Regions from separate parts of the Homo sapiens genome. Here region 2 is linked to region 1. The links come from fine-mapping of genetic effects on gene expression. A gene starts in region 1. The other region holds a variant in brackets. All regions are shown on one strand. Distances are between the middles of the regions.

Region 1 (5,000 bases):
GAGTTTCTAAAAACGGATCTCAGATCCCATAGCATATACTGTACTGACTGAGCTATGACAACTCATCATATTCCACATACCTGCTACCACAGGTGAGATCCATGTCCCGAAGCTTAGAGAGAAGCCTCTCTAAGGAACTAGAGGCATAAAACTGCCAACCACACCTACCCCCACCATCTCTCGGTGGGCGAAGGGAAAATGGTATCTTTAATACCAAAAAGATAATTTAAAGGCTTTAGATCAGGGGTAAACTTTATTCATAAAGGGCCAGAGTAAATCTTTGAGGCTTTATGAACCACATATGGTTGAAAACATTGTTGGCCTCCTGGCACAGAAACAGAAAACTGCTGTGGAGGCTAAGAGATCACCTCATCCGTTTTATAGCTGATATCCCCTCAGGCTAAGGCCTGCCTTAGGAGGAAAGGCAGTAGAGCAAGCTTGTCCAACCGCAGTCCTGGGCAGCAAGCAGCCCAGGATGGCTTTGAATCCGACCCAACAAAAATTTGTAAACTTTCTAAAACGCTGAGGGTTTTTTTTGCCATTTTTTAAAGCTTATCAGCTATTGTAATGTTAGCGTATTTTATGTGTGGCCCAGGGAAGCTAAAAGATTGGACACCCCTGCAATAGAGCATAGTTTTAAGAGCATCACTTTAGTGCAAGACTCCACCATTCACTGCTGTATAATTTCTGGCAAATTACTTAATCTCTCTGTGCCCATTTCCTCATCTGCCAAATGAGGATACGTTAAAGGTGCTTGTGAGGTTTAACAGTTCATTTGTGTAGCTAAGAAGAGTATTTGAGGCCCAGAGCACCATGGCTTACGCCTGTAATCCCAGCACTTTGGGAGGCTGAGGCGCACAGATCATCTGAGGTCAGGAGTTCCAGACCAGCCTGGCCAACATGGTGAAACCTGTCTCTACTAAAAATACAAAAAATTAGCCAGGTGTGGTGTCCTGCACCTGTAATCCCAGCTACTCGGAGGCTGAGACAGGAGAATCGTTTGAACCCAGGAGGCACAGATGGCAGTGAGCCGAGATCACACCACTGCACTCCAGCCTGGGTGAGAGAGCAAGACTCCATCTCAAAAAATAAAAAATAAAAGCGTCCCTGACACATACTAATTACAATATAGTTAGTAGACTTTATTGTTGCTATGGGAGCAGAGGGCCAAGAACCAGCACTCGCCATAGCCCATGTCACCCACAAATGGTTAGATGCAGGAGTACCTGCAGCTACTTTCTTGTAGATAATGGAACAAAGGGGGAGCCCTGCTCTTTCACCAAAACCCGAGACCAGGCAAAACTTCAAGACTCATGCTGAGGAGGGGCGCTTCATGAACTTGAATATTAGTGGTCACACAGGATTCTACTCACAAAAATGTAATATCACAACAGTGCAGACCATAGGAAGTTTATTGTGTCTTTGAGACACTACAATGCAGACTCCTCTTCCAGAGAAAGGTCTTTCAGAGACAGGGAACCGTCATCCGGATGCGTTGCTCATTTGTCATTTTCATAGGCAGCTGGATTCTTCCTCTTGGATCTCTCGAACTCTTCAGTCCCCCATGTGTAGATAAGATAAAACACTACAAACTCTTTAAAAATTAAGAGAGTAAACAGAGAGCACACATATAAGACATATAGAAGAAAAAAAAAGGTCTCAGTCCTCTTGTCTTCTTTAAAGCATACACTTCAGTAGTTCTTAGCATATCCAAGGCCATGCAACTATCATCACTATCTGCTGCACGTTTAACACAAAGCATTTCACCACTGGTAAGAACTAAATAAAGGTGACCTCAGAGGAACATGCTGGAATCACCCGAGTGACCTTGGGCCAGTCATTTCAGTTCTGTAGCTCAGTTTTCCCCGTGTAAGATGGGGAGGATAATATGACCAGCTTAAGGGCGGTCAGGAATATTCAATGAGAAAGGTGTGTACGGCAAGTTACAGAGCGCCTGCCCGGCCGCCAGCGCTCAGAGGGGAGGCGCAGTGACTGCTGCTGCTGCTGGGGTCCAGCCTCCCGCTCCCGCGGGCCCAAGGCACTCACGCGGCACCACGCGAAAGAAAGACTCCCGAATGCGGCGCAGAACATTGGGGATTCCTTTAGTGAAGACGTGCGGATAGGCGCGCTGCTCGAACGGTGACAAGCTGTAGCTGATCACATGCCGCATCCGCGTCAGATTCCCAAACTCGCGGCCCATTGTGGCGGCGGCCCTGCAGGACCGAGGGTGGACAGGCGCTTGGCTCGCTTTCGCGAAGCGCCGCAGTCCCCGCGGGGGTCCATCCCCAACCCCAGACTCCTGCCCCTGCACTCCTTATCCTTTCCCAGCCCAGCGGGGCGCCCCTAGCCTCCCAGGGTCCACGAACACTGCACAACCAGACCCCACTCACGCACAGGGCTCAGCTCGCCCTCCACAGTCACCGATCCGGTTGACTCGTTCGTCATTTCCGGCAAGGTTGGAAGCCGCTCTTGGAGGTCGTGAGGTAACTTCCGGGAGATACCATTTTCCTACTGTCTCTAAGGGATGACGCCTTTGTCCCAGAAAGAAGTGGGCTGACTGGGTGACCCGTAGGTGGGAGGTGCCTTGGAGGCCCTGCCCGGGCCGGTGGGGTGGAGCCTAGCGGAGGACGTCGGGGATTGAACTGACTTTGGGGGACAGTGGACAGGCGGAGGCGCTCACACTTCTCCTCAGCCCTCGGCTTTTCTGTGGAATCCCAGTCAGGAAGCGGCCGAATGCGGGAGGCGGGGGAGGGAACAAAAAGGTGACGAGGAAGGGGCCTGCCGACCTCCGGGGCAGCGCTGGCCAGGAGCTTGGGGCCTGCGAGTCTTCCCAGCTGTAGACAGAGCGCCTCTGAGCCCCGAGGCCGGGCCGCCCCACAGCAGAGGAGCACGAGGTTTCATTTGGCCTTGGCCAGTAGCTCAAAGGGGGCTTCGTTATTTTCAGGCCATGAGCGACCCCAGCACCAAAATCAGGGACACACATCGAAGGCTTCTCTTGGACTCTGTTTTAGAGTCCCCTGGCAGGCTGTTAACGTTCCCAAGAGATAATACAAACGTTTCGTCAGTTTCAGCCACAAAAATAATCAAATAATCGTCAATTGATGAATGCTGAGGCCGCCTCGACAGCAGCCAGCGTCCTCCCCAGATGGTTTGCGTGGGGTGGGGGGAATCACGATGCCCCAGTTCTTTCTTCTCCCCACGTGAGAAGCAAGGAAAGTCGGGTGAGAGGCCTTATTATGTTTTCCCTGAAGTGCATTCTGCTTGACGATGCTGTTGTCAATGTACAGCTCGCCCTGAGGTGTCTTGTCAGTGTTTTGTTAATGGAATTGCTGGCCATATTTTATCTAGGACTAAGCTCTCATTCAACAGTTGGCTGTGTTTTATAACACTACTTACGGACCACGGAGGCTCGGCAGGCAGTCAACTTGTATTTTGCAGACATACCTTAGTTTTCTCATGTAGGTACTGCACAAACTGGCTTCGTATCTTGCACTATGAGTGTAGGCTGACTCTTCCAGCATAGTCTCCTTCGGGGTGGCGCTGAATATCCCCTCATTTCAGCTTTTCATGGTGCTCCTTTGCCTCATTTTTTTAAACCATAATGTCTAGCCTGGTCTCAGCTCCAAGGCAAGAACAGAAATACAGGTAAGGACAGAAATATTGTGGCAAATTCTACCACCATTTGGATGAATAATAATAAAACGTTCATTTATTTTATAGCATCTGCAAACATCCCAAAACCTTTCAACCAAAATATGTATAGATGAGTGTGCAGACCAAAGTAAGGACATCAGTATGTTACATTTAAAAATAAGTCAAGGTTAAAGGCGGTGTCCTCTTTTAAGAACATCGCAAATACAATTCCAGTACTCCAAGTACGTATTCTGTACCCAGCCACCTGGGAGGACTGAGAGACCTAATGGTTTTCTGCTTTCTGGAACTTCTATGCCAATTGTGACTTTCTCACCCAAATTTGTAAATTCGCAAATTAACATGCAGCGAATAATTACAATTGTAAACACCTGGAAGTGGAAAAGGCCGTGAGGATAAATTGAGAGGAAGAGTAAACCTAATACCATAAGTTGCATACCAGCAGATCTGAGTATCGTCATGAATAATTGGTTAGCTTTTCCACATGCCTTAGAAGTTTCAGCAAGCACCTAGCGAACATCTTAATCCAAATTTCTCAAAAAATGAGAGATTTTATTTAAGATCATTCCTCAATTTATCTTAGACTTTCAGCTACATAGTTAGTCCGGTAGTGTAACAGTAACGGGTTTTACGTAAATGCCAGGGGAAAAGAGAGGAAAGCTAAATAACCAAGTAAATCTGTATCTAATTAACAAATTGGCTAAATAAGGTGTTATCAGCTGCTTGATATAGAGCTGATAAAATCTTCAGCTAGGCATACTTGAGGCCTGATTACAGAAGTGACCGTAGTCCACCCACACACCTGAAATTTATTTAAGAGACCAAGCTAGGCTCTTCCTGGCCTTTAGGAAGAGGACTGGCATGGAGAAATATGTTCCTCACTAGTTCTCCCAAGCCATGGCACGTCCCAACAAATTCCTCCTTTGGTTTTGCTGCTTTGCCTGGCTGTGTTTTCCTATTAGCCTTGGTTCTCAGGCTTCTGGGGGAGAAGCTCAGATTGCTGCTAGTGCTGAGTTGGAATCTGGGGCTATGCCTTGGTCCTTGCTGCAGCATATAGATGAGAGAGACAGAGCTGGCCTCCTTCCCGCGCTTTTCAAAGTTCTATCTGTTGGGCGAGGTGGGTCACCTAGGCTGCAGCCAGACTCCAGAGCTTTGCACTACATGAAGAAGCTCTATAAGACATATGCTACCAAGGAAGGGATTCCTAAATCCAATAGAAGTCACCTCTACAACACTGTTCGGCTCTTCACCCCCTGTACCCGGCACAAGCAGGCTCCTGGAGACCAGGTAACAGGTATGTGAAAGCAGATTGGTTAACTGGGTGGAGGGAAGATGATAGACACTTCTGC
Region 2 (5,525 bases), 23 kb after region 1:
GACTGGGTTTCACCATGCTGGCCAGGCTGGTCTTGAACTCCTGGCTTCAAGTGATGCGCCAGCCTCAGCCTCCCAAAGTGCTGGGGTTACAGGCATGAGCCACCGTGCCCAGCCCTTTTTACTATTTTTTTAAAGATGGGGTCTAGCTCTGTTGCCCAGGCTGGAGTGCAGTGGCGTGATCTCACTGCAACCTCTGCCTTCTGGGTTCAAGCAATTCTCCTGCCTCAGCCCCCCGAGTAGCTGGGGTTACAGGCATCTGCCATCATGCCCAGCTAATTTTTTTTGTATTCTTAGTAGAGATGGGGTTTCACCATGTCGGCCAGGTTGGTCTCAAACTCCTGACCTCAGGTGTCCCACCTGCCTCGGCCTCTCAAAGTGCTGGGATTACAGGCGTGAGCCACTGTACCCGGCCTACTTTTTAAATATGTCTATTAACTGACTTTAAACTACATATATGGCTCATATTTCTATTGAACAGTGCAACAGTCCCTTCCTCATACGATTTTATTGTAAACTCTGCCTGATACTGCTGCAAGGTAGGGCTCATGATACTTCTAATGTATACACATTATATATTTATTATCCTTTTTTTTTTTTTGAGACAGAGTCTCATTCTGTCTCCCAAGCTGGAGCGAAGTGGCATGATCACAGCTCACTGCAGCCTTGATCTCTTGAGCTCAAGCAATCCTCCCGCTTCAGCTTCCCAAGTAGCTGGGACTATAGGCATGCACCACCATGCCCAGCTGATTTTTTTTGTTTTTTTTAAAGTTGAGGCGAGGTCTTGCTATGTTGCCCAGGCTGGTCTCAAACCCCTGAGCTCAAGTAATCCACCCACCTTGGCCTCCCAAAATGCTGCGATTATAGGCATGAGCCACTGTGCCCAGCCTATTATTTAATATATTTCCTCCTCCTATGCAGTGGCTTTCTCTGTCTCTCTCTCTGTCTGTCTGTCTGTCTGTCTGTCTGTCTCTCTTTTTAAAGAGAAAGAGAATCTTCTTGTGTTGTCCAGCCTGGTCTTAAAGTCCTGGGCTCAAGTGATCCTTCTGCCTTGGGCTCCTTAGTAGCTGGGCCTAACAGGCACATGCCACCATGCCCAAATAGCTTTCTGGTCTCGAACCCAAATATACTTCTTTCCCATTACTGAACTGCCTAAGCATGGTGGAATCATGAATGGTATAAGATAAACTGCAGCTCTCCCTGGTGAAAATGGGCACAATTTGGGAGAGAGGCACAGTCTGAGACACCTGTGAAATGTGTTGATTTTCTGCAGCTACCTTTGGAATGCAGTCCTCAAGAGCTGTCTAATATCTGTCCTATCCAAGTCAAAGGAACTGATAGAATACAGGGAGATGTTACTCTGCCCACCAAGAGGACCTCGACCTAATTCTGCCAAAGTTCTTATTGTTTCATGAAACTGCTAACATGAAGCTGAGAACTACCATGTAAATACAAACAGGGTGTCAGGATTGGGACATGCCTTGACCTGATAGGTTTTGAGGATAATGTAAATATTTTCATTATGATATGATCAAATCAGATTAGAGTTGGTTAACAGGTAGCACTAGGCTATATACTTTTGAACAGACTCCTTTTGTATTACTGCTAAAGATTCTTTTTTTTTTTCTTTTTTGAGACGGAGTTTCGCTCTTGGGTGTCCAGGCTGGAGTGCAATGGTACAGTCTTGGCTTACTGCAGCCTCCACCTCCTGGTTTCAAGCGATTCTCCTGCCTCAGCCTCCTGAGTAGCTGGGATTACAGGAGCCCACCCCGACGCCCGGCTAATTTTTGAATTTTTAGTAGAGACGGGGTTTCATCATGTTGGCCAGGCTGGTCTTGGACTCCTGACCTCAGGTGATCCTCCCGCCTTGGCCTCCCAAAGTGCTGGGATTACAGGTGTGAGCCACAGCGCCCGGCCAAGATTCTTAATTTTAATGATTAGTAGACTAATTTACACACAATGGTAATTTTTAAAAAGTCATGTGATCTGCAGGCACATTAACATCTGAGCCTGTGGCCCACAAATAAACCTGAGATCACCTGGCTTGCAAGATACCTTTAGGTCTATGGGCAGAAGGTGCTCTGAATTAGTAATTTAGTGCAAGAGTACTTGAGCTTGCTTTCTGCATTTGTAGACACATGCTTAAAACATCAGAGTGGTTAGAACCCTTAGAAGCCATCTCTTGCTTTGTATGTGAAGACCTTGAGCATGAATGGGCCAATGTCAGGCCGGGTGTGGTGGCTCACGCCTGTAATTCCACCACTCTGAGTTGGGTGGATTGCTTGAGGCCAGGAGTTCGAGACTAGCCTGGTTAACATGGCAGAATCCCATCTCTGCTAAAAATACAAAAATTAGCCAGGTGTGGTGGCATGTGCCTGTAATCCTGGCTTCTTGGGAGGCTGAGGCACGAGAATTACTTGAACCCAGGAGGCGGAGGTTGTAGTGAGCTGAGATCGCACCACTGCACCAGCCTGTGCGACAGAGTGAGACTCTGTCTCCAAGAAAATAAAGAATAGGCCAATGTCAATGACAACTCTTAAGTGTGTGTGTGTGTGTGT[A/GTA]TGTATGCGTGTATACATACATATATTTGTGTGTGTGTGTGTGTGTATATGTATTGCTTGAATTGAATTGCTTGAACCCGAGAGGCGGTTTCAGTGAGCTGAGATCGCGCCACTGCACTCCAGCCTGGGCAACAAGAGCAAAACTCCAACTAAAAACAAAAAGTGTAGGCCCTGCACGGTGGCTCATACCTGTAATCCCGGCGCTTTGGGAGGCTGAGGCTGGCGCATCACTTGAAGCCAGGAGTTCAAGACCAGCCTGGCCAGCATGGTGAAACCCAGTCTCTACTAAAAATACGAAAAAATTAACTGGGCATGGTGGCAGGCACCTGTCATCCCAGCTACTCCAGAGGCTGAGGGAGGAGAATCGCTTGAACCTGGGAGGGAGAGGCTGCAGTGAGCCGAGACCGTGCCACTGCACTCCAGCCTGGGCAACAGGGTGAAACTCTCTCTCAAAAAAAAATGTAAATTCAGTTATCTTTAGTATAGTCACAAGATTAAAAAAAATTTTTTTTAATAGGGACAGCATCTCATTATGTTGCCCAGGCTGGTCTCAAACTCCTGTGCTCAAGCAGTCTTCATGCCTCAGCCTCCCAAAGTGCTGGGATTTCAGGCTTAAGCCACCACACCCAGCCTAGTCACAAGATTTTATAATTATCCCACTATCTAGAGATGGGGCCTAGAGATGAACATTTCTGTCATCACCCAAAGAGGCCTCGTACCATTTAATAGTCACTTCTCATCCCTTCTTTCTCTGTGGATTTGCCCATTCTGGACATTTCATATACATGGAATAATACGTGGGGTTTTGTCCGTTTTCTTTCACTTAGCATAATGTTCTCGAGGTCCACACGTTGTAGTACATGTCAGCACTTCATTTCTTTTTATGGCTGAATAATATTCCATTGTATAGATATACCAGATTTTATTTATTCATTAATCTGTTGGTGGCCATTTAGGTCGTTTCCACTTTTTGTCTATTATGAATCATGCTGATATAAACATACGTACAGGTTTTGACATGAACATATGTTTTCAGTTCTCTTGGGGATAGACCAAAGAGTGGAATTGCTGGGTCATATGGTAACTTTCTGTTTAATCATTTGGTGAACTAAGAAACAGTTTTCCAAGTCAGTTGTATCATTTTACACTCCCAGCAGCAGTGCGTGAGGTTTCCTTTATATCCTCCTCAATACTTACTATCTGACTTTTTGTCTTATAGCCATTCTAGTGGGTATGAAGTGGTACCTAATTGTGCTTTTGAGTTGAATTTGAGGTTGAGCACCTTTTTTAGTGCTTATTGGCTATTTGTAGATCTTGCGAGAAATTCAAATTCTTCCTGTTCAAATCCTTAGTCTATTTTTAAAAATTGAATTGTTTGTCTTTTTATTTGGTGCATTGTAAGCTATTAAGCATACTAAGGTAAATCTAATTTAGGGAAAGCATTCACTATTTCAGGAAGACCAGAGAGTTGCAGTTTGGCTTTATTATTATTATTATTATTATTATTATTATTATTATTATTGAGACGGAGTTTCACTCTTGTTGCCCAGGCTGGAGTGCAATGGTGAGATCTTGGCTCACTGCAACCTCCGCCTCCTGGTTTCAAGCGATTCTTCTGCCTCAGCCTCCCGAGTAGCTGGGATTATAGGCATGCACCACCATGCCCAGCTAATTTTGTATTTTTAGTAGAGACGGGGTTTCTCCATGTTGGTCAGGCTGGTCTCAAACTCCTGACCTCAGGTGATCCGCCCACCTCGGCCTCCCAAAGTGCTGCGATTATAGGCGTGAGCCACTGTGCCCAGTCTATTTTTAATCCTTTTCAGGCACTTATAAAGTTTTCGAAAAGAACGCTTGTTCACAGAATAATTATAAACAAGGACCTACCACCATCACTAATAAAGGTTATTAATCCAATCCCAAGAACCAAGAAAGAGGATCTAGGCCGGGCACGGTGGGTCATGCCTGTAATCCCAGCACTTTGAGAGGCTGAGGTGGGTGGATCACCTGAGGTCAGGAGTTCGAGACCAACCTGGCCAACATGGTGAAAACCCGTCTCCACTAAAAATACTAAAATCAGCGTGGCGTGGTGGTGCATGCCTGTAATCTCAGCTACTCCGGAAGCTGAGGCGGAAGAATCACTTGAACCCGGGAGGCAAATGTTGCAGTGAGCTGAGATTGCGCCACTGTACTCCAACCTGGGCGACAAGAGTGAAACTCTGCCAAAAAAAAAAAAAAAGAAAAGAATGGGGTCCAAATGAACTCTCTTGAAAGTCCTTGCTTCCATTCATGGCAGCACCTCCCTAGACCTCTCATTGCTGTGCCCAAGTGAGTGACCAAAGCAATCTGCTCTGAAAAGAAAGCAGCTTCTTAGGGTATGGCAAGTCACATCTTTTTGTCAAAACCACCAAGAGGAGAGAGTGATATAGGAAGTGTGGTGACTTGAAGGAAATGACTGGCCCCAGGGTCTAATGTTTTTTTAGAAGTTGGTTCAAGGAGGGTGGATCACTTGAGGTCAGGAGTTTGGGACCAACATGGTGAAACCTTGTCTCTACCAAAAGTACAAAAAATTAGCCGGGCATGGTGACTCATGCCTGTAATCCCAGCCACTTGGAAGCCTGAGGCAGGAGAATCACTTGAATCCAGTAAGCGGAGGTTGCAGTGAGCTGAGATTTCGCCACTGCACTCCAGGCTGGGCAACGGGGCAAGACTCTGTCTCAAAAAAAAAAAAAAAAGTTGGTTCCCAGTGTTACAGCTCTTAGAATTTGTCTAGCAGGCTTTCTGGTTTTTGCCAGAAAGCCCCAAAAAAGTTAAACAAAAAAGTCAGTTCCCCAAGTGAGGGCTGACAATGAGTCTGCTCATGGACAGAGCCATCAGGCCCTGGCTGATGCCAGGGCAGAGAGGGGCTGTCAGCAATGGCTCTTGGTGGAAGGAGTACTGCTGATTTCCTTTCTGGCTCCTAGGACATGTGTT

Alleles and levels. Alleles are on the strand shown, and positions count from the first base shown. SD is a standard deviation of normalised expression in the study named.
As copies of A replace GTA in region 2, the expression in prefrontal cortex of the gene that starts at base 2,613 in region 1 goes up (moderate effect, 0.43 SD a copy in BrainSeq).

What was found. PIP is the estimated chance that this variant, and not a neighbour inherited with it, causes the effect.
Region 2: its variant is fine-mapped to the expression of GDF9 in prefrontal cortex (BrainSeq, PIP 0.95).

Annotation. Positions count from the first base shown.
Region 1 is chr5:132,864,082-132,869,081 of GRCh38, reverse strand. GDF9 (growth differentiation factor 9) reads left to right here and starts at 2,613. Exons shown (of 2, transcript NM_005260.7): 1 at 2,613-4,945. The coding sequence starts at 4,549. It overlaps UQCRQ (ubiquinol-cytochrome c reductase complex III subunit VII), which reads right to left and starts at 2,440. Exons shown (of 3, transcript NM_014402.5): 1 at 2,395-2,440; 2 at 2,047-2,213; 3 at 235-1,594. The coding sequence starts at 2,200. The coding sequence ends at 1,500. RefSeq lists enhancers at 2,102-2,602, 2,603-3,103, 1,962-3,161.
Region 2 is chr5:132,841,079-132,846,603 of GRCh38, reverse strand. It overlaps LOC124901190 (U7 small nuclear RNA), which reads left to right and starts at 5,297; the gene lies at 5,297-5,356. It also overlaps the pseudogene RNU7-15P. The variant A/GTA (reference allele first, on the strand shown) is at 2,556.